Linked DNA regions of Homo sapiens: region 2 is linked to region 1. The links come from fine-mapping of genetic effects on gene expression. Tissue or cell type: fibroblasts. Region 1 holds a variant in brackets; the other region holds the start of a gene. All regions are shown on one strand. Distances are from middle to middle.

Region 1 (12,043 bases):
TGTTGGATATTACCTTGCAGCAATTACCACCTTTTTCCTTGTTGGTAGAAACTTTGAATCTGTGGCTCGTTCACAGTCCCAGGAGGTAAATTGTGATTGACTTAAGTGACAACCTCATTCACATTCCTAGGAAATGGTTTGAGGCTGAGTTCTGGCTAATGGGATCTGAGGGTATCTTATTTGAAGATTTGGGGAGAGATTTTCCTCACTAAAACAAAGAAAACCCTAGGGTGAAATGCTGCTATTTTTGACTAGAGGTTGTTGAGTTAGTGTGTGAGACCTGGAACATCTGCAGTCATCTTGCAGCCAAGAGGAGATTTTGCTCTCATGCTACCGAGATGGAAAAAGCCCCTGGCTCTTGAGGACATAGTAGGATCATGGATTTACCTAGGCTTGAACTTGTCTTTCTTCTGGACTTATTATAAAATAATCTTTTATTTTAACTTCTATTAGTTGGGTCTACTCTTCTTATAGTCAGAAGTACCACAATTGATGCACCTACAATTTTTTTTGTAACATTTTTCTCAATCATTTCCCCAGTATTAGCTGAGGTCCTCCCTAAACTGTGGGGAGGAGGTAGAGGGGTTGTTTCAGTGGAAGGAGAATGAGTGATGAGACCTATCGAATGTGTTAAATAGCTTTCATTTGCCCTTCCAGATCCATTTTCCACTGTTTTGTATTCTGCTCTAAGCTCCAAAGTAGGAACAGGGATAACCTATATGGACAGTCTCTGTTTTCTCATGTTATTGAGAAGGACAATAACGAACACCTTTTTGAGCTTCCAAATTATATGTTAATGTATGATTCTCTCCAAAGGCTTCTCATCAAACGTCATTTGACCCATAGTCTTCTTTTTAATTTTTCCCAAGATCGACTCCCAAGAAAATATTTCCCAAGAAAATATCAGTCAGGGTCCCAACAAGAAACAGGTGACTCACTCAAATTTGGATAATTTGAAGAAGGTTTACTTACAAAAGTGTGCAGGGTGGTGGACCTCAAGCAGATTGAAATCCAATATCAGTTAGAAGCCTAATTCTTTCCAGTGTTGTGAAATTAAATATCACCCATATTCCTCTCAGCTAAATTCTTCCCTTTCTTCTAGAAGGATTTTAAGTTACACCTTTTCTGGAAAGTTTCCCCATCCTTCTGCTTTAGTCTGTTCTCACAATGCTATAGAGAACTACCGGAGACTGGGGAATTTATGAAGAAAAGAGGTTTAATTAACTCACAGTTGGGCAGGCTTAACAGGAAGCATGACTGGGAGGCCTCCGGAAACTTACAATCATGGTAGAAGGCAAAGGGGAACCAAGCACATCAAACCATGGGAGCACAGGAGAGAGGGAAATGCCACACACTCTTCAACCATCAGATCTCGTGAGAACTCTCTCATTATCACAAGAACAGCAAGGGGGAAATCTGCCTCCATGATCCCATCACCTCCCACCAGGTCCCTCCCTCAACATTGGGAATTACAATTCAACATGAGATTTGGGTGGGGACAGAGAGCCAAATCATATCACCTTCACTAACCAAAACTTACTGAGATTTTGACTTATAGTTGGACTCTACATTGATATTCATGCTCAACATATTGGAATTCCTTCGGAACAGAGAACACATACCTATGAAACCTGTCATTAAACTGGGTAGTAACACCAATATAATTGTATACTTTATTAAGATACATTTAAATTTTGGTAAAATATACTTAATTTACCATTTTAACCATTTTTAGTGTACTAGCTCTATAGCATTACTTACATTCACATTGTCATGCAACCATCATCACCATCCATCTCCAGACCTTTTTCTTCATCTGAAACTGAAACTCTATACCCATCAAAAAATAATTTTAAACACCTATTTAGTAGCATGCAATTTAGAAAAATGAATAGACTTTGTTTTGAGACAGGGTCTTTCTCTGTTGTCCAGGCTGGAATGCAGTGGCATGATCACGGCTCACTGCAGCCTTGACCTCCTAGTCTCAAACGATTCTCCCATCTCAGTCCCCCAAGTCACTGGAACTACAGGTGTGTGCCACCACACCTGGCCTTTTGTATTTTTTGTGGAGACAGGGTTTTGCCATGTTGCCCAGGCTGTAGACTTTGTTTTTTAGAGTATGTTTAGATTTACAGAAAATTTAAGCCCACAGTACAGAGTTCCCATCTCCCCATTATTAACATCTTACATTTGTAGGGTACATTAGCTACAATTAATTAACCAATATTGATAAATTATTATTAACTGAAGCCCATACTTAATTCAGGTGCCTTTAGTCTTTATCTAATTATCTTTTTATCTTTCAGGAACACATCCAGGACACTACATTACATTTATTTGTCACGTTTCCTTGGGTGCTCTTCATTGTGACAGTTTTTCAGACTTTTTTTATGACCTTGACAGTTGTGAGAATTATTGGTCAGTTACTTTGTAGAACGTCCATCAGCTGGGATTTGTTTGATGTTTTCTTTTTTGTTATTTTATTTTTTAGTTTTTAAATATTTTATTTCATTTCCTGCCCACACATGGATGTCTGATATTTTCATGATTAGACTGAGGTAATGGGTTATTGGGAGGAAGGCCACAGATGCTAAGTACCATTGTCATCATATCACATCAAGGGTACATACTATCAACGTGATCTATCACTGTTGATTTTGAATTTGACCACCTGGCTGTAGTGCTGTTTGTGAGATTTCTCCACTATCAAGTTTCTCCCCTCCCTTCCACATTGTACTCTTTGAAAGGAGGTCACTGTGCAAAACTCACACTTAAGGAGGAGAGAGTTATGGAGTTAATTTTTAAATGATTGTGGGGACATTTTCTGAAGCATCTGCCCAGTTCACATGACCTCCCCCTCCCTAGTAACTGCTCACTCTCAAATCCATAAGGATACCCTGCCAATTCCTCTCTTAAGCAGCCAGAATTGTTCTGTGAAATCCTTTTCTCTTGGTCACAATGATTGGAGAACATAGGGTCGATAGGATTCTTTCCTCAGGTGCTGGAAATGTTAGGGTAAGTCAGGCTTTCTGTGTGCCCAAGTTCGATACAAAGCTACTAAATTAATGACTACTTAATAATATCCTTTGATTGACTAATAATTATACAAAAGCCTAGTTAAAATACTTCCAACATTGTTGATTGTCTCCCTATCATCCATTCCTCCTTCCCACGTTTACCACATAAACCCAATTTTATGTTTAATGCAACACACTCTCTACTCTCTATTATGCAACTCACATGCCCCAAGGATGGATTCCCACCCCTAGCTCCAGGAGGGGGCCCAATTGCTCCAAGAGTAATCCCCTTTTTCTTGCCTGTCATAAGTTCGGGAATAGACACGTGATCCAATTAAGGACAATGAGATGTGCAGAAAGTTTGCTAGAGCCTCCCAGGAGAGGTTTTCTTTGCTCTTTTGCTGTTGCTTTGAAGTGACCTATCTCTTCTGGATGTTGTCACATATTAAGACTGGGACCATTGCACACATCTTCCTTCCAGCCCGAGGAGGCAGCTGGCACACAAAGGAGGAAAACTTAAAAAATGCCAGGGAGATGGAACAAGAACCTTGTGAATGCCCAACCTATCTCTAGACCAGGGCCACTCAAAATGTAGGGTGTCTGGGAACTGTTTGTTACCATTCTATGATGACATAGACATAGAAATTGAGAGACATGCTTAGGAATTTTTGTAGGGATTTGATATTGCAATCGCCTCCAAGTGTGTGGTCAATGCACTTATCTAGCCAAATAGGCTCTAGACTAGTTGGGGTGTTGTCCAACAAATGGATGAGTTGTAAGTTGTGCAAACTGTGTACAAATCTTGTGCTTTATAACCATGTAGCAATCTGCACTGAATTGAAAAATTAAATCAATTCAAGAACAACTGTCCACAGATATTTTGAGAAACACTGCTACAGACTTCAATGATTATGTGAGTCAATTAATTTCCCCATCATTTAAGACAATAAGGATTTTCTTTTCTCCAATTCACAGCCCAAAGTATCTTATGTTATACTGTAGTGAATCTAGTAAAAAGACAAGAGACCACATAGATATTTGTGGTAGGGTATACATGTAATTAAATAAATGTCTATATATGTGTGTACGTGTTTTCACCTAACTCTGTACTGGGTAACCATTTCTCAATGTTAGTGATTGTAAAAATTTGAAAAAGAGAAGCTATTTTGGTATCTATTGCTAGCTGCTGGCACTTCCCAGTTCTAGTTCTTTGATTTGAATATGATGCCATGATGTAACACATGGGAGAGATACTAGAAGAACCAAAGTTCCATTTGTATCTCTAGGGAGAACTCATAAGAGTAAGGAGAGTTGACTATATGTCATCTTCCAATTATATTTTTAACTTCATACTTCAAAACTTTTCTAGTTTTGAGAGAAAGTCAATGCAATTTTTTTTTTGAGACAGAATTTTGCTCTTGTTGCCCAGGCTGGAGTTCAGTGGTGCGATCTCAACTCACTGCAACTTCTGCCTCCCAGGTTCAAGTGATTCTCCTGCCTCGGCCTCCCGAATAGTTGGGATTACAGGCGTCCACCACTATGCCCGGCTGATTTTTGTATTTTTAGTAGAGACGGGGTTTCACTGTGTTGGGCAGGCTGGTCTCAAACTCTTGACCTCAGGTGATCTGCCTGCCTCAGCCTCCCAAAGTGCTGGGATTGCAGGTGTGAGCCACCGTGCCCAGCCCAATGTAATTTTTATAAGTTTTGGGGGTCATAACCTTTAAGGGGTTATCAGAATTCTAATTTGTAAAAGCATTATTTATAAGTTACAAAAATTACACTTTGCAATTCTTATTATTTTCCTAGAGATACAAAGAAAGGGCTATAACGAAATTATGATTGTGTGCTAACAAATAGAATAGATGCCTTTGTTAATGGAGGTAAAACATTTTTGTGACCATTCTTTTTTGATATTATTTTGATCCCAATGGAATGTTTTTAGAGTCTCAGATTATTTTTCACGTGCGGAATGACTATTTCATTTACCATACCAAAGATAGTCTTTAAGCTAGTGATCTGGGAAAGATTGCTGTGTGAAATTAAAAACTTTATTCTTGCAACAATGATGAAATGGGCACATCTTTTTAGCCTTGATGGAATGAAGCCACATGACAATTAATTTATAGTATGCATTGCCTCAGCCATTAAGAGCTTTGGAAGGACTCCTGGTGTTGAAGGATGAGGCAGATGGGGTGTTCTAGAGAACTAGAGAGTTTATTTTGGCTTCAAAGCTGGTTACTATTATAAGAGATAGAAAACTGGGCAATAGCAAGCTGCAGCAGAAGGGACGGCCTCAACAGATGAGCCTGATGTATTATTTTAAGAACTTTCTTCCAAAGCCAAGTCATAACACCTCATTGCTTTGTACGAAATAAAAACACACTTTCTTTACAGGACTTGCTTTCCTTGAAAATGATAAAGATCAATTGCATGAATAGGGATTTTATTTTAATATAAATATGTGGAGCTCTTAATTAATTTACACAATAAAATATATTGTTATGTGCCTTGTTGGTATAGCTGTATCACTATACAAGTGGCATTCTGTAACTGGTCCTCTGGTTCCATTAAAAAAATTTGGTTGTGGCCAGGCATGGTGGCTCACGCCTATAATCCCAGCATTTTGAGAGGCCAAGGTAGGCAGATTACTTGAGGTCAGGAGTTCGAGACCAGCCTGGCCAGCATGGTGAAACCCTGTCTCTACTAAAAATACAAAACTTAGCCAGATATGGTGGCATGCACCTGTAATCCCAGCTACTTGGGAGACTGAGGAAGGAGAATTACTTGAACCTAGGAGGCGGAGGTTGTAGTGAGCTGAGATCAAGCCACTGCACTCCAGCCTAGGTGACAGAGTGAGATTCTGTCTCAAAAAAAAAAAATTGGTTGTATGCTTGAGACAGTAATGTTCACTAAATATTCCATGGGCTCCCCTAGTTCTTCATCTCACTCATAGTTGAACTGGGGCCATGTATCTAGATCAGGCTGATGGGCCATGAGAAAAATGAATTTTTGTCACTTTTGGACTGAGACAGTTAAAAACAGGCATAGGCTTTTCATCATCTTCTTCTTTTGTGTGACCATTTTGACATGGAGGAGCCACACAACGGAAGCAGCCTCTATCTTTAGTCATTACATCAAAAAAACATCCCTGGAGAGCTCTTTACCTGCACTAGACATTTTGTGAATAGTGGAAGTTGACTTGTGCTGTGACACCCCAGTGAGATTTGGGTGTCTATTTGTTACCACAGCATGGGCTAGTGTTATACTGACTTTTATCCATAGTTATAAATTTCTGTTCTTTATAAATTACCCAGGCTCTGGTATTTTGTATGTGTTTGTCCATTTGCACTGCTATAACAAAATACCAGAGGCTGGG[T/C]CATTCATAAAGAATAGAAATTTATTTCTTACAGTTCTGGAGGCTGGGAAGTCCAAGATCAAGGTGCCAGCAGACTTGGTGTCTAGTAGGGGCTGTGCTGTCTGCTTGCATGATGGCACCTTGTGACTGTGTCCTCATATGGCAGAAGGTGCAGGGGCAAAAAGGGCAGAATCCTGGTGAAGCTTCTTTGATAAATGCCTTAATCCCATTCAAGAGGGAGATGCCCTTATGAGCAAATCACCTCCTTAAGGCCCTACATCTTAATATTATTACATTGGAAACTAAGTTTCAACATGAATTTTAGAGGAGCACAAACATTCGATTGTGACAGAATTGGTAACTACTAACCAATTTACCACTTGCAGTGTGTAGATAATCCCCAGAAGCAGAGAGACTGATATGTGCTGTAGATGTGGGTGCACGGTTGAGTTCCCAGGGGCCCTATTGTGCATCGCTCATTGGCCTCTGTACTGTTTCCATGTGTGCAGAACTGTGCTGGGAGCTGTAAGAATGTAAGCAACAACAATAAAGCGATCTTAGACCTAAATCAAGTCAGTCCAAGGAGAAGAAACATACACTTCTTTTCTTCTATAAGCTTGCAGTCTATCTATTAGGAGAGCAAGGACAGGCACCCAAGAAATTAAAATATAAGGTAGAGGGACAAAGAATATTTCATTGGCTTGGGGAGATCACGAGCTGTAAATAGTAAATGAGTCTGTGCGTTCTAGGCTATAGTACAATGCAAATTTGGAGAATAAAGGTATTTTAATGAGATTAATATGTTTGAAGGTTAATTTTTATTTTTATGTACAGTAAAGGTAACATTAAACCTTTATCCCAGTTTGGCGACAAGTTCTTTAGCCTTGCTTTTTGAGCTTAGCAATGAGAGCCATAAATTTGATAGAATGTTATCCCCAATGATAGCAGATCTTGTCATGTCTGTCATTGTAATTGGTCCTGGTAGTTTCCACCAGCTTAGCTAGGACTCCTTTGTCTTCTGAGTTAACCTGTGTAAAGGCAATGGTGGTGCAGGTCTTTCTGTGGAGGAAACATCCCACCAGTCTGGCTTTTCTCTTGATAATGAACTAGGAGACTCCCATTTTAGAGCCCAAGGCAGCAGGAAGAACAACCAGCTCAGTGGAATCCACACATGTGCAGTCATCCCCAGGTGAGCCTTGTTGTTCTCCACCAAGGTGGTGACTTTATAAACACCTGCTTAAAGGACCGGCAGTCTCAGTGGGGATACCCCTTTTCTGGCAGCTCTCTGCTTTTCTTGCTCTGTGCCTGAATGTAGTTGGCCACTTTAAGCAATTCAGTAGCTGTTTGACTGGCCAATGTCTGAGTGAGCTGGTTCATCTCAGGGGATGCTTTCAAACACTTATAAAGGAAGACTCTTTGCCACCACAGCTGGATGTAACAGCTGCATTTGACAAGCAGACAGGGGTGATTATTGCATCCCATTTTGTAGGCCTAACCGGGAATGATAATAATTTCTTTTCTTTTTTCTTTTCTTTTTTTTTTAAGACAGAGTCTCACTCTGTTGCCTGGGCTGGAGTGCAGTGGTGCGATCTTTGTTTACTGAAATCTCTGCCTCCTGAGTTCAAACAGTTCTCCGCCTCAGCCTCCTGAGTAGCCGAGATTACAGACATGCACCTGGCTAATTTTTGTATTTTTAGTAGGGACGAGGTTTCACCATGTTGGCCAGGCTGATCTCAAACTACTGACCTCAGGTGATTTGTCTGCCTCAGCTTCCCAAAGTGCTGGGATTACAGGCATGAGCCACTGTGCTCAGCCTGGAAATAATAATTCAGCTTTGATTTGAACATTTTAAAACATTTTGATAGCATTTTAAATTTTGGTTAAAATAACACATGTGCCATATTTAAAATCAACAAGCCCCTGTCAGGCCTGATGCCACCCGTTTCCCTGATGGTTTACATTTGTAGAGAAGTTTTCCAGATTCGCCTTACAGAAATAAATCTGGCCATTCAAGGTCAGTCTAAATCTGTACTTCTAGAAGTCAACATATGTAAATATGACCAAACATTGAGGTTTTATTTTCCTCCATAGTAAAGACTTATCTTTTTTTTTAAAAATGGACTGTATCAAATCAATTTTTATACTTCTTTCCTCAGTAAGCAAAAATAAATTTTTCATGTGCTATAAAGACAGCATTAAATCTTTATGTCCTCTGTTGATTAGAAAGTATGATATTAGCAACACTAGGATATTTATACTCGGAACTCTGTAATTATTCTAAAATACATGCTGTCTTTTGTTTGTCTATTTTATGTGGGTTGCTCTCTCTTACCTGGTATTTGAGAAATCTACTAATGAGATCAAAGAGAATAAAAATTGGGATACTAGATTATTATTATTTATATATACATATTCCTAGAAGAATCTAGGCCTGATATAACTTTTTTAAGGGACTACTGTTCTAGGATCATTTTATCTGTTCATTATATACCCTCCAAACCAAATTCTGTAGGTGGTTTTTTTTTTTTACATTTTCTCCTGGGAAAGATAAACGAGGCACTCCATGGTAGAATAAAAAAACAGATTTGGCTTTGGGGAGTTGGGAAAGTTCTGGTGAAATGCCAAGTGCTGAGCTGCAGGTTTTCAAAATTGTTTATTTTGAAGCTTAGAATTGTTGGAAAAGTATCACATATGAGACTCATGTCATTGCTTCTGACAGTGAAATAGGTCAGCTGCCCAGGTGGTGTCTGAGAAACCTACAGAAAAAAGATAATGTATACATCTCTTCTTCAGCCCAGACTCTGTTAGCCATCCGTATAACAGGCTCAGTGGGGTTGAAAATCTTCAGTACCATTCCTTGGATACAGATCATAGTCTGGTGGTCTGACTTTTATAATCATGGTCATAGTTCTTGAGAGGTTTCTTTTTAAACTTTGCAAATTCCAAATTAATCCAGTATGGATGTGTTCACGGTGCTGTGTAACAGCAATGCCTGTTCTCAAGAGGCATATGCTTAGATCTCTTTGTACAGCAAATCAGCCTGAAATTCCATATGTCATTATTCTGACTTTAGGTCATATGGTGAATTAACTGCAAGCTTATAATGCTCACAGAAACAGCAGTGACGCAGAAGAAGGGGCGGGAGGTTCCAAGAATGACGAATGCCAGGTAGGAAAGTGGAGAAAGGCCAGAACATGAGCGTCCTCCCCACCAATTGTGGAGGGAAAGCTTTCTTGGTTTTCTTTTTCCCAGTAGGAAAAATACTTCATTAAGAAAACTGGTCACTGTAATCCCAGCTACTAGGGAGGATAAGGCATGAGAATCGCTTGAACCCAGGAGGCAGAGGTTGTAGTGAGCTGATACTACGCATAAAGTATTCTTTATCTTGTAGGCAGATGATGATGTAAACTGAATTTACTAAAGAAATGGTGAATGACATATTCATGGAACCATTCTAGTTTCTAATAAACAGTTATAGCTTGGTTAGCCCATCTGTGGGTGAGGTCACTGCAGTCAGTATGCACATACCCACCCCCAAATCGGCAGAGAACATCTGCAGAAGTGAGGCTTCCTCACTCTTCCCCCTTCCTGGAATGGTGGAGCTGGATTCTGAAAGGGATTCCTGGGCTTGAGAACGTTCTGGGCAGACCCTGAAGGGGCAAGTCCATAGTACACAATGACGTGGTAACAAGACAAACTTCTTATCAAATCCATAAAGCTATCTAAACTGCACAATATCTAGCAATGAAATTAACCAAAGAAATGAAAAATCTATACAAGGAAAATGATCAAATATTGATGAAAGAAATTGAAGAGGACACATGAAAACTGGGAATATATTCCATGCTCATGGATTGGAAGACTTAATATTATTAAAATGACAATTCTACCCAATAAAATTTACAGATTCAATGCAATCCCTATCAAAATACCACTGATCTTCTTCACAGAAATAGAAAAAAGAGTCCTAAAATTTATATGGAACCACAAAAGACCTTGAATAGCCAAAACAACCCTGAGCAAAAAGAATAAAGCTAGAGACATCATACTACCTGACTTCAAAATATACTACCAAGTTATAGTAACCAAATCAGCATAGTACTGGCATAAAATCTGACACATAGACAAATGTAACAGAATAGAGAACCCAGATATAAATCCACACACTTATAGCCAACTCATTTTTCACAGAGGTACCCAGAATATACAATGGGGGAAAGGACAGTCTCTTTAATAAGTGGGGCTGGGAAAACTGGATTTCCATATGCAGAATAATGAAACTAGACCTCATCTCACTGTATAAAAAAATCAATTGAAAAGGAGTTAAATATTTTTTATTATTATTATTATTATTATTTTTTGGAGACAGAGTCTCGCTCTGTTGCTCAGGCTGGAGTGCAGTGGTGTGATCTTGGCTCACTGCAACGTCTGCCTCCAGGGTTCAAGTGATTCTCCTGCCTCAACCTCCCGAGTAGCTGGGACTACAGGCACCCGCTGCCACGCCTGGCTAATTTTTTTTTGTATTTTAGTAGAGATGGAGTTTCACTGTGTTGTCCAGGCTGGTCTTGAGCTCCTGGGCTCAAGTGATCCTACCACCTTGGCCTCCCAAAGTGCTAGGATTACAGGTGTGAACCACTGCATCCAGCCCAAAAATGAGTTAAATATTTAAATCTAAGACAGGAATCTGTGAAACTACTAGAAGAAAACATTGAGGAAATGGTCTCAGACATTAGTCTGGGAAAATATTCTTTGTGCAAGACCTCAACAGCAGAGACAACCAAACAAAAATAGACAAATGGGATTACATCAAGCTAAAAAACTTCTGTATGGCAAAGGAAACAATAAAGTAAAAAGACAACCCACGTGATATGGTTTGGCTTTGTGTCCCTGCCCAAATCTGATCTTGAATTGTAATCCCCAGGTGTTGAGGGAGGAACCTGGTGGGAGGCGATTGGATCATGGGGGCTATTTCCCCCATGCTGTTTAGTGAGTGAGTTCTCATGAGGTCTGATGGTTTTATAAGTGTTTGACAGTTCTCATTAGATCTGATGATTTTATACGTGTTTGACGGTTCTCACGTGATCTGATGGTTTTGTGTTTGAGAGTTCCTCTCTCACACTGTCTCTGTTGCCTGCTGCCACGTAAGATGTGCCAGCTTCTCCTTCCTCCATAATTGTAAGTTTCTTGAGACCTCTCCAACGATGTGGAACTGTGAGTCAATTAAACCTCTTTTGTTTATAAATTACCCAGACTTGGATAGTATCTTTATAGTGGTGTGAAAACAGACTAATACACCACAGAATAGGAGAAAATATTTGGAAACTACTCATCTGTCTAGGGATTAATAACCAGAATATAGAAGGAACTCAAACAACTCAATAGCAAAAATGCCAAATAATCTAAAGTAAAAATGGGCAAAAGATCCAAACAGACATTTTTCAAAAGAAGACATACAAATGGCCAAAAGGTATATGAAGAAATGTTCAATATCACTAATCATCAGGGAAATGCAGATCAAAGCTACAATGAGATACCATCTCACCCCAGTTAAATGGCTTTTATTAAAAAGGTAGAAAATACAATACAATAAAAAATAAACTGCACAGATAATAATGATCTACAATTTGAAATTTGAGGTATCTCTTTGGAACTCCATTTGCTATAGTCTGAA
Region 2 (11,425 bases), 52 kb before region 1:
TTTAATAAAAAAGGCAACAGCAAGTGTTGACAAGAATGTGGAGAAATTCAAACGCTCATACTTTGCTAATAGGAACATAAAATGTTACAGCCAATTTGGAAAACAGTCTGAATAAGCTGGGTGTGGTGACGCATGCCTGTAATTCCAGTTACTCGAGAGGCTGAGGCATGAGAATCACTTGAACCTGGGAGGCAGAGGTTGCGTTGAGCCGAGATCGTGCCATTGCACTCCAGCCTGAGTTACCATTTGACTCAGTAATTTCACTCCTAGGTATATGTGCAAGAGAAAAGACAACATATGTTGACACAAAAACTTGTACATGAATGTTCATGGCAACATTATTCACCACAGCCAAAAAGTGGAAACAATTCAACTGTCCATCCACTGGTGAATGGATAAACAAAATGTCTTCTAACTATACAAGGAAATATTACTTCGCAATAAAAGAATAAAGTAATGATACATGTAACAACATGAGTGAACCTTAAACTCATTAGACTGCCTGAAGGAAATCAGACAAAAAGACCACACATTTTTTTGGTCCCACTTATGGGAAATGTCCAGAATCAGCACATCCATAGACAGTAGATTGGTGCTTGCCATGTGCCTGGGCATGGGGTGGGTAGGGGAATCAGTGAGTGCTAGCAGGTATGGAGTTTTCTTTTAGGGTGAGGAAAGGGTGATAGTGATGAATGTGCAGCCCACTGAATATACTAAACACTCCATTGTACACTTTAGAAGGTTGAACTTTAGGCTGGGTGAGGTGGCTCATGCCTGTAATCCCAGCACTTTGGGAGGCTCAGGCGAGTGGATCACCTGAGGTCAGGAGTTCGAGACCAGCTTGACCAACATGGTGAAACGCTGTCTCTACTGAAAGTACAAAAGTTAGCTGGGCGTAGTGGTGCGCGACTGTAATCCCAGCTACTCAAGAGGCTGAGGCAGGAGAATTGCTTGAACCCAGGAGGTGGAGGTTGCAGTGAGCCGAGATCATGCCATTGCACTCCAGCCTGGGTGACAAGGGTGAAACTCCATCTCAAAAAAAAAAAAAACCAAATAAATAAAATAAAAAGTAAAATTTGGACTTTATGGTGTATGAATGTCTCAATAAAGCTATTATATTAAAAATACATTTCCTTAGAGAGCTGAAGGATATTGATTTAGACCTCAATTAGTGATTTTTTCCCCCTATCATTCACAGTATTTTTACCTTAGTTCTGAATCCTTGAGTGATAACCATTCATAACCTTCAAACTTCGGAGAATTCCTAAACCAATATTTGTGGAGAGGGAGAATGGGGAGATTCAGATATGATTTGGTCTGTAGACTTTCCTTCCCATCTTTTTGCTACTTACAGCAAGTATCTTACAATTTGGACACATGACATACACATTTCACCTCCTGCATTGTGAGGACATACATAATGGAGTCTGAATTGTGACATCGATCTGCATCTCATAGTTGGAGCTATTGGCAGCATGGATTTTTAGTCATCCACAGTTAATGAGGAACAAATGAAAGGGACCTTATAATGGTTCATAGGCTTCAATTCCATGCATCCTATGTGTAGTACTGCTTGATGCCACATTTAACTGCAGTAGTATTTGTTTAATGAACATTTTCTTCATTCATTTGTTTAGAAAAATATTAGGCACCCCTCTGTGGGAGGTGCTGCTAGGCTGTGGGGATTCCACGGTGAGCATGCGGACAGGGTTCCCACCTTCAGGGAGCTTAGCTCTTTTGAAAGAATTCAGATAATAAACAAGTAAACTGATAAGATACTTGCATACAGTTATAGGTGAAAAAAGAAGATAATGGGATCACGAATGACTGGATTTGGAGTGGGGTCATACCCTAGGGACACAGTCTTTCTTTTCTTTGAGACAGAGTCCCAGTCCGTCACCCCGGCTGGAGTGCAGTGGCGCTATCTAGGCTCACTGCAACCTACGCCTCCCGGGTTCAAGCAATTCTCCTGGCTCAGCCTCCTAAGTAGCTGGGACTATAGGCGCCCGCCACCACACCCGGTTAATTTTTGTTTTTTGTATTTTAGTAGAGACGGGGTTTCACCATGTTGGCCAGGCTGGTCTTGAACTTCTGACTTTGTGACCCACCCGCCTCGGCCTCCCAAAGTGCTGGGATTATAGGCGTGAGCCACCGTGCCCTGCCGGGACAGTCTTTTGAGAGGAGGTGACAATGAAAGATGAGGCAAATAAAGAAATGGAGGAGGCTCTCTCAAGCAGAGGTGACAATACGAAGGACAGAGGCAAAAACAAGTTGGGGTATTCCAGAAAGGAAAGAAGGGGATAGCTAAAGCTGAGAGGGTTGAGAGGCCAGCAGAGGCCAGATCACCCAGGGCACCCTGATAGTTCAGCAGCATGTTCTGCTACTAGGGCATTGTGATGGTTCTGTAGTGTGACTTGTTCTCTCTCTTTTTTTTTTTTTGAGACACAGTCTTGCTGTGTCACCCAGGCTGGAGTGCAGTGGCGTGATCTTAGTTCACTTCAACCTCTGCCTCCTAGGTTCAAGCAATTCTCTTGCCTCAGCCTCCCGAGTAGCTGGGATTACAGGTGCCCGCCACCACGTCTGGCTAATTTTTGTATTTTTAGTAGAGACGAGGTTTCACCATGTTGGCCAGGCTGGTCTTGAACTCCTGACCTCAGGTGATCTACCTGCCTCAGCCTCCCAAAGTGCTGGGGTTACAGGTGTGAGCCACCGTGTCCTGCCTCTTGTAGTGTGACTTGTCCTAGGGGAAAGGGGAATCTAGTGGAGGGTTAAGAAAGAGATCTGACCTGAGAAGCTTTCAACTTTCAAAGATCATCTTGGCTGCAGTGTGGGGTGGGGTGGGATGGGGCTTGGACTGAGGTGGTAGCAATCAACAGTGTTCACTGTTGTGTGGTCGGTTTTAGATGGTTTTCTTTTCTCTTTCTTTCTTTTTTTTTTTTGAGATAGTTTTCTTTTGGAAATGAGCTGGACAGAGGGTGCAGAGGCCGATCCAAGGTTTGTGAGGCCTAAATCATACAGTTTGAGGGCCTTCCATAAGAAAAATAAAAACTAAACACAAAATGAGATAGAGGACCCTGCAATGGGGTAACACAAAATGAGATAGAGGGTCCTGAGCAAAGGAGAGTCCCTGACACTTAAGCTTCTGGAATTTCTTGATGAGTCCTCTCCCGATGGTGGGGGTGAGGTCGGGAGAGATCAAGAATGCCCAGGTTTTGTGACTGAGCAACTGATGATGCTATTAAGATGAGAAGGAGGTGTTTGGGGTAAGGTCTGGAGAGAAGAGCTGGGTTTCCTTCGTGGCACTTTTGTGGGACACAGGAAACAGCCACGTGGCTGAGGATAGAGGGACAATGGAGCCCAGGAAGAGGGCAGGGCTGGAAATGGCAAGCCATCACTTTCATGGCATTTAAAGTTGTGGAAGTGGATGACATCAGGTTGGGAAGAGAGAAGAGAGCCAAGCAATCAGCTGCAAGACAACTCCACCTGAGGCCAGGCCCTGGAGGTTTCTAGTTTATATATAGTCCAAATATAATAGTATATTTAACATTAGTCACTTTAAGTTGTAATTCTCTTTTTCTTTCTGATTGCAAGGGTTTCTTTCTTTACTTTTTTTTCTGAGACAGAGTCTCATTCTGTCTCACTCTGTCACCCAGGCTGGAGTGCAGTGGTGCGATCTCGGCTCACTGCAATCTCCACCTCATGGGTTCAAGCGATTCTGCTGTCTCGGCCTCTAGAGTAGCTGGGATTACAGAAGACAGGGTTTCTTTAACATTTAAGGAATCCACTGATCTACTTCTGAAATCTTCAGAGATAAAAAAGAGAAGGAATCCACTAATGCATGTAAGGATAGTGGGCTGAACAAGTAGGCCCTAATGATCAGAACAAGTCAATTAAAAAAATTATTTGATCAAAGAATTGTTTATTTTTATTGTTTTTATTTTTATTTTTTCTTATACTTCAGGAGTAGTAGGATTTACTTTGTGCCAAGGAAATAACTAGTTTTCTCTAAATTGTCTTCAAGCATTTAGGCCTCCTACCAACTAATATAATTCTCTACCTCTCACTTAGAAACATTGTTTAACAATATGGAATGATCATTTAAAGAACTTAGATCAGGCTGAGTGCGGTGGCTCATGCCTGTAATCCCAGGACTTTGGGAGGTAGGTGGATCACCTGAGGTCGGAGTTCGAGACCAGCCTGGCCAACATGGTGAAACCTTGTCTCTACAAAAAATACAAAAAAAAAATTAGCCAGGTATGGTGGCGCAGGCCTGTAGTCCCAGCTACTCAGGAGGCTGAGGTGGGAGAATCGCTTGAACCTGGGAGGTGGAGGCTGCAGTGAGCTGAGATCACGCCACTGCACTCCAGCCTGGGCAACAAAATGAGACTCAGTCTCAAAAAATAGAAAAAAAAAAAGATGTTAGATCAAACTAATATTAAGAGGTCAAAAGACCATCTTCCTCCCATCTTAATCTAAGGATTTTTCTAGTTTTGTTTATACACTTAAGTTTTCATTTGAGTATTCAGAGAGATAATAAACCCTACCCTTTTAAAGAATGTGGGAGGGAGTGGGAAAAGTAGGAATGCGTTTTAAGGTCTATCTGCCATGTAAAATCAGCGATATTGGACCCATGTGATAAGAATGCTTGTTTTACATGGCTTCAGCTATCCATAGACCAAGCATTTTCTCTTGAAACATAGCTACATTTAGAAAATCTTAATACAGCTTAAAATAGGAATTTTGGTATTTGGTCCCGGACACTACCACCAGAAAGGGATCCCATTATGTTATGATGCTATTATTCAAGCTGGTTGGACTCAGTTTGCAGAGACTCCTATTTTACAAATCACTTGGCTTGTGTGAATTGACTATTTAGTGGCTGTGAGATTGAGGATAAGGGCTAAATCTTTTCTAACAAGAGGACTATTTAAAAACCAGAAGAAAATCATAGTATTTTAGCTGTGAACTTTAGGAGAAGCTTTAGAGAAAAGATTTTATACATATCTTTAGTTTCATATGGTAATAGGTTATAAAGCATACGAAATCAAAGTAAAGAGCTAGAGGTGATGGGGTACTGTTAAAATAGGGTGCCCAGGGAAGACCTTCCTAAGGGTGAGATCCAACAATGTATTGCTTTATGAAAATTAATTTTCTGGCAGAGCAAAGGTATTTAAAAGATTAGTATTAAAAATGCTCAACCTACTTTCTTCTGACTTCTGTAAAAAAGCACTTTTTTATATATCAGATTTTTAAGTTATAATAATAACTGACAACATTTTGATTTCTTTCTGTGTTTGAGGGATAACCTTCTATGCTTTATCTTATTTAATTCTCAAATGTAACCAATGAGCCTTCAACCATTTTGTCAAGAAAATTCTTTAAACATGTATTAATTCCTTACTGGCCTTTTGAAACCTTTTGAAACACTGAATTATTATTATTTTTATTTTTTACTTTTTTTGTTCGTTTTTTTTTTTTTGACACGGAGTCTCGCACTGTCGCCCAGGCTGGAGTGCAGTGGCGCGATCTTGGCTCACTGCAAGCTCCACCTCCCGGGTTCACGCCATTGTCTCGCCTCAGCCTCCAGAGTAGCTGGGACCACAGGTGCCCGCCACCACGCCCGGCTAATTTTTTGTATTTTTAGTAGAGACGGGGTTTCACCGTGTTAAGCCAGGAAGGTCTTGGTCTCCTGACCTTGTGATCCGCCTGCCTTGGCCTCCCAAAGTGCTGGGATTACAGGCATGAGCCACTGCGCCTGGCCAAAATGCTGAATTATTTTTCACCTTTCCAGAGTGGGGCGTATAGGATAGAAGTTGGCCCTTGGGATGAGGGGATCCTGACTGTAGTTGCAGCTTCCCCCTTAACTAGCTGTGATCCTGAACTGGGCTGTCAATGCTTCCTGAGGCCTCCATTTCCTCATCTGTAAATTGGGGCGAGTTGGGCAGCACCCTAGGGGATCCTCCCAGCTCCGGCGTCTGAGGACCATCAAGTCGGTTATGTCACTGGGTTGTGGTAGAGTGGTGGATACACAGGCCACTTAGGCTTGCTTGCCCTGAGGTGAAATTGTTCTGGAACTCTGGGATTTCAACTCTTATATTTCTGCCTGTGTTTTGGAAGTGTTTTCCCCGCTCATTTTCTCCATCAGACAGTGTCATTTATTGTAGCTGCCAACATAAAATGACAACTGTCTCCACTTGTCAGCTGCTCTCATCATCTGGTTTGCTGTGTGCTTTGGAAGGCAGATGACCAAGCATGTATGAACTAGGCACAAGAGTATATGAACTCAGCACAGAGAAGACAGCTGAGGATATTTCCTGTAGAGTAGCATGCATGAACTTTATAAGGTATTTGGCCACTTAGGTATTTTTCTTTTTTTTTTTTCGTGATAGGGTCCCACTCTGTCACCCAGGCTGGAGTGCAGTGGCACAGTCATGGCTCACTGCAGTCTTGACCTCCCCAGCTCAAGGAATCCTCTCACCTCAGCCTCCTGAGTCCCTGGAATTACAGATGCATTCTGCCATAACTGGCTACTTTTTTCTATATTTTGTAGAGACAGGGTCTCACTATGTTGCCTAGGCTGACCTTAAACTCCTAGGCCCAAGTGATCCTCCCACCTCAGCCTCCCAAAGTGCTGGGATTATAGGTGTGAGCCACTGTGCCCGGCCGGTATTTTTCATTTGGAGGTTTATAATTGCATTCCAGAGTTTTAACTCTACTGGAAAGCTAACACAATGTTCCAACACAAATCTGTCTCGCATACTAGTTAGTGTCTTTGAGGTTCCATCACAGACAAATGACGGAAGAAAGCAAAACTGTTTAGGAAGGTCTAAATTAAACATTCTATAATAAAGGCATTAGCATTTGACAAGTCCCTGGTATCTAATACTTTATAAGATGACAATGAGCCTTTTTTACCCCTAGTTAGGGGATTAAGTTCTAGGAGAAGAAGTTAACCAGGTGGTTCCTTAAGTAAGTAATCTTTTGACTACTTAGGGATTGATTTTGTTTTCCCATAATGAAAATGAATTCTGTTTTCCTTCATTTACTTGACTTTAGTGATCTCTGAAAACTAAGATAAAATATACTCGGCCTCTGAGGGAATACAACCATAATGTACAGAAGACAAAATAGATACTCTAAAGATTTTAAATGGAACATCTTGGGATTTGAGAAATTAAAGGCAGTGAAAATCATACTGCTTCTAAGCACTTTTTATTCTCCCTATAGGAAAGCAGGGTAGATAATCCTGATGGGTTGGATTTCAATTAATTGGTGAATAGAAGGTAAAATGATCAAGAAACAGATATCATAATTATAGGAGAAAATAGCAGGAGCTTTTTGTTTTAAAGGAAATAAAGAATAGAATTCACAGTGAAGAGAGACAGAACAAAATCTGATAATTCTAGACTCACTTGAGTGCCGCAAGTATCCTGATCAGGGAAAACAGTTGTGCCTACACATGGGTCCTGGAAAGGCTTCTCCCCGGAACCACCTAAGTGAAATAAAAACTGATTTCTGACTGTTTCAGGATGGCAACACAGACCTTTAGGATAATAACCCACATTCTTTTGGGCAACTCTAATCAAGTGATGCCTCCTTAAGGATACAGAGTTAGTCCCCAGCTCACGTAAGGCACAATACCAAAGAACAATGAGCCATCATGAAATCGTCATTGTTTCATACTTGGTTTTTGTGTAGAATGTTCTCCAAATCATTGTCTCTGACGTTTCCTTCCTCTTGGGTATGACTGTGGTGACGTCAGGAGACGAGCTAAAGGGACCTCCTGGATCTCACAGGGAAACTCTTTCCCTCCAGTATCACGCTAAATTGTTCCTCAGTGCAGATGAAATTCTTAAATGGTTTCATCTGAATGTGAGGTTTTGGGATGACTTACTGTGGTCAGAGCTGTTCCCGGCTGCTCCAGTTGTGGGAGGTCATCAATCCCACAGTTCTGACCTCCTGGCTCAGAGACGTCACCGTGGAGACACCTGGCTGCTATTGTGACACGCAGGAGGTCAGCTGGCTCCTGCTAGTGGGCATTTACACTGCCCACCCTGCCAGCTTCACAGGCCCACACTGCACAGGCATTTAGACGTTACAGGGTAGCCCAAGCTCCCAAAGCTGTGGAAAGGAAAGGGAGCTATCTATTGGCCTTTGAGAACTCAAAACCCATGTTGCTGGGGGCCACTCAGATTGGGTACAAATGTGTCATCAAATTCAGTTTTGAAACTGTCTGAGTAGCTTCTTTACCCACAGATTTTGATTCTATTCACTACTCAATACTGAAAAGAGAAATTGATCTCTCAAATAGACAAAGATAAATTTGTATGGAAACAACAGGAAATTCCATATTACATACGTTTATGTCAACTGGGTTTGTGATTAAATTACTTTTTCTTTTATTTTAGTTGACATGTAATAATTATAAATATTGGCTGGGCGGGGTGGCTCATGCCTGTAATTCCAGCACTTTGGGAGGCCGAGGTGGGAGGATCATTTGAGCTCAGGAGTTCAAGACCAGTCTTGGCAACATGGCAAAACCCCATCTCTATGAAAAATGCAAATATTAGATGCGTGTGGCAGTGCACACCTGTAGTCCCAGCTGCTCAGGAAGCTGAAGTGGGAGGATCATCTGAGCCGGGGGAGGTTGAAGCTGCAGTGAGCTGTGATTGCACCACTGCACTCCAGCCTGGGCAACAGAGTGAGACCTTGTCTCAAAAAATAAACAATAAAAAATTGCAGATATTTATGGGATGTAATTAAATTTTTATATGACAGATTAACATCAATTTTGCCCTGTATTCTCATGGATCTCAATGCCCTAGCTTTGTACATTTAGCTTTTCTTTTTTTTTTGAGACAGATTCTCACTCTGTTGCCCAGGCTGGAGTGCAGTGGCGTGATCTCGGCTCACTGCAACCTCCACCTCCCGGGTTCAAGAAATTCTCCTGCCTCAGCCTCCCAAGTAGCTGGGATTACAGGTGCCCACCACCATGCCCGAATAATTTTTGTATTTTAGTACAGATGGGGTTTCACCACGTTGGCCAGGCTGGTCTTGAACTCCTGACCTCAAGTGATCCATCTGCCTCGGCCTCTCAAAGTGCTGGGATTACAGGCATGATCCCCTGCGCTGGCCTAGCATTTTGTTGTTTTTATTAATTCAGATCATTAATTAAAGCCAAACTCCATTTTTGTAATTATTTATTTCTTTTTTTTTTGATACAGAGTCTCTCTCTGTTGCCCAGGCTGGTGTGATCTCAGCTCACTGCAACCTCTGCCTCTCTGGTTCAAGCGATTCTTCTGCCTCAGCCTCCCAAGTAGCTGGGATTACAGGCACGCGCCACCATGCTCGGCTAATTTTTATATTTTTAGTAGAGACGGGGTTTCACCATGTTAGCCAGGATGGTCTCGATCTCCTGACTTCGTAATCTGCCCACCTTGGCCTCCCAAAGTGCTGGGATTACAGGCATGAGCCAACGCACCCGGCCTATTTTTGATTTTTAAATTGTTTCATAGGACATGGGCAGACTCCTTTGTATAGGTCACATTTTTTTCTTGGTAACGTGTGATGTCTAAGCACTTTCTAGTGTCACCCCGCATATCCTGAAAGTTCTTCAGCACTATTCCTTGCTTCTTCGTCCTCATCCTATGTCACTGGTTCTTTTTTTGTTTTTGAGACAGGGGTCTCATTATGTTACCCAGGCTGGTCTCGAACTATGGGCTCAAGAGATCCTCCTGCCTCAGCCTCCCAAGTGGTTGGGACTGCAGGAGCTCGCTACTGCACCTGACTTCTAACATTTTGGCTTGTGGGCAGGTGTCTTCATGGCATTTTGCTCAAGCATCTTACCAAGGGTCTGATACCAGAATTTACATAGATTCAGAATCAGCGATTGAATGGTTACAAGGTTACTGCAAAATGTATGAAGAACATTTTATTTAGTTACGTATTTGTTTATTTTTTAGTTCTTTTTTTAGAGACAGTCTTGCACTGTTACCCACCCTGGAGTCCAGTGATGCAATCATGGCTCACTGCATGCCCCACCATACTTGGTTAATGTTCTAAAAAAATGTTTGTAGACGTTGGGGGAGGGTCTCACTGTGTTGCCTAGGCTGATCTTGAACTCCTGGCCTCAAGTGAGCTGGGAGCACCTTGGCCTCCCAAAGTGCTGGGATTACAGGGGTGAGCCATTGTGCCCTTCCTGAAGAACATTTTAAAAGAACAAATCCGAGAAGTTTCTCCAGTGCCTATGACATTGACCAGTTGCTTGGTGTATTAGTCTGTTTTCATGCTGCTGATAAAGACCGTGGCTGGGCACAGTGGCTCATGCCTCTAATCCTAGCACTTTGGGAGGCTGAGGTCAGGAGTTCGAGACCACCCTGGCCAACATGGCAAAACCCTGTCTCTACTAAAAATAGAAAAATTAGCTGGGCATGGTCGTGGGTGCCTGTAGTCCCAGCTACTTGGGAGGCTGAGGCAGGAGAATCACTGAACCCAGGAGGTGGAGGTTGCAGTGAGCCGAGATTGTGCCACTGTACTCCAGCCTGGGTGACAGAGCAAGACTTGGTCTCAAAAAAAAAAAAGAAAAAAAAAAAGACATACCTGAGACTGGGTAATTTATAAAGAAAAAGAGGTTTAATGGACTCACAGTTCCATGTGGCTGGGGAGGCCTCATAGTCATGGTGGAAAGCAAAAGATACATCTTACATGGTGGCAGGCAAGAGAGAATGAGAACCAAGTGAAAGGAGAAACCTCTTATAAAATCGTCAGATCTCGTGAGGCTTATTCACTACCACAAGAACAGTATGAGGGAAACTGCCCCCATGGTTCAAATATCTCCTACCGGGTCCCTTTCACAACACACGGGAATTATGGGAGCTACAATTCAAGATGAAATTTGGGTGGGGACACAGGCAAACCATATCACTTGGTTTTTTGGAAGGTGCCAGCAGACCTGACTGCACTGGCTGATCCTTGGGCATTCCAAACCTACACCAAAGACAGGATTTAGGGGAATATACATTGATTTCTTCATCAGCAGGCACAACCAGTGGAATACTGAATAGGAATCACCATGGTGGATAAGGGTAGGCTAGAAAGTCACATATAGAGAGCACTATGGTGGATATTTTGCATTGTGGCTTTATTAGTCCGTTTTCACAGTGATGATAAAGACATACCCAAGACTGGGCAACTTACAAAAGGAAGAGGTTTGTTGGGCTTATGATTCCACATGGCTGGGGAGGCCTCACAAACATGGCGGAAGGTGAAAGGCACATCTCACATGGCGGCAGACAGGAGAAGAGAGCTTGTGCAGGGATACTTTTTTTTTTTTTTTTTCCTGAGACAAAGTCTTGCTCTGTCGCCCAGGCTGGAGTGCAGTGGTGTGATCTCAGCTAACTGCAACCTCCTCCTCCAGGGTTCAAGC

Alleles and levels. Alleles are on the strand shown, and positions count from the first base shown. SD is a standard deviation of normalised expression in the study named.
As copies of C replace T in region 1, the expression in fibroblasts of the gene that starts at base 7,936 in region 2 goes down (small effect, 0.35 SD a copy in GTEx).

Evidence for each region.
Region 2: IPO5 starts here. The variant in region 1 is fine-mapped to the expression of IPO5 in fibroblasts (GTEx, PIP above 0.99). The same link has a PIP of 0.9 or more in nasal epithelium.

What each region holds. Positions count from the first base shown.
Region 1 is chr13:97,897,436-97,909,478 of GRCh38, reverse strand. It overlaps the pseudogene RPL7AP61. Among named protein-coding and RNA genes, the nearest start is that of IPO5, 50 kb to the left of the region's middle. The variant T/C (reference allele first, on the strand shown) is at 6,394.
Region 2 is chr13:97,950,186-97,961,610 of GRCh38, reverse strand. IPO5 (importin 5) reads right to left here and starts at 7,936. Exons shown (of 29, transcript NM_002271.6): 1 at 7,895-7,936; 2 at 7,413-7,492.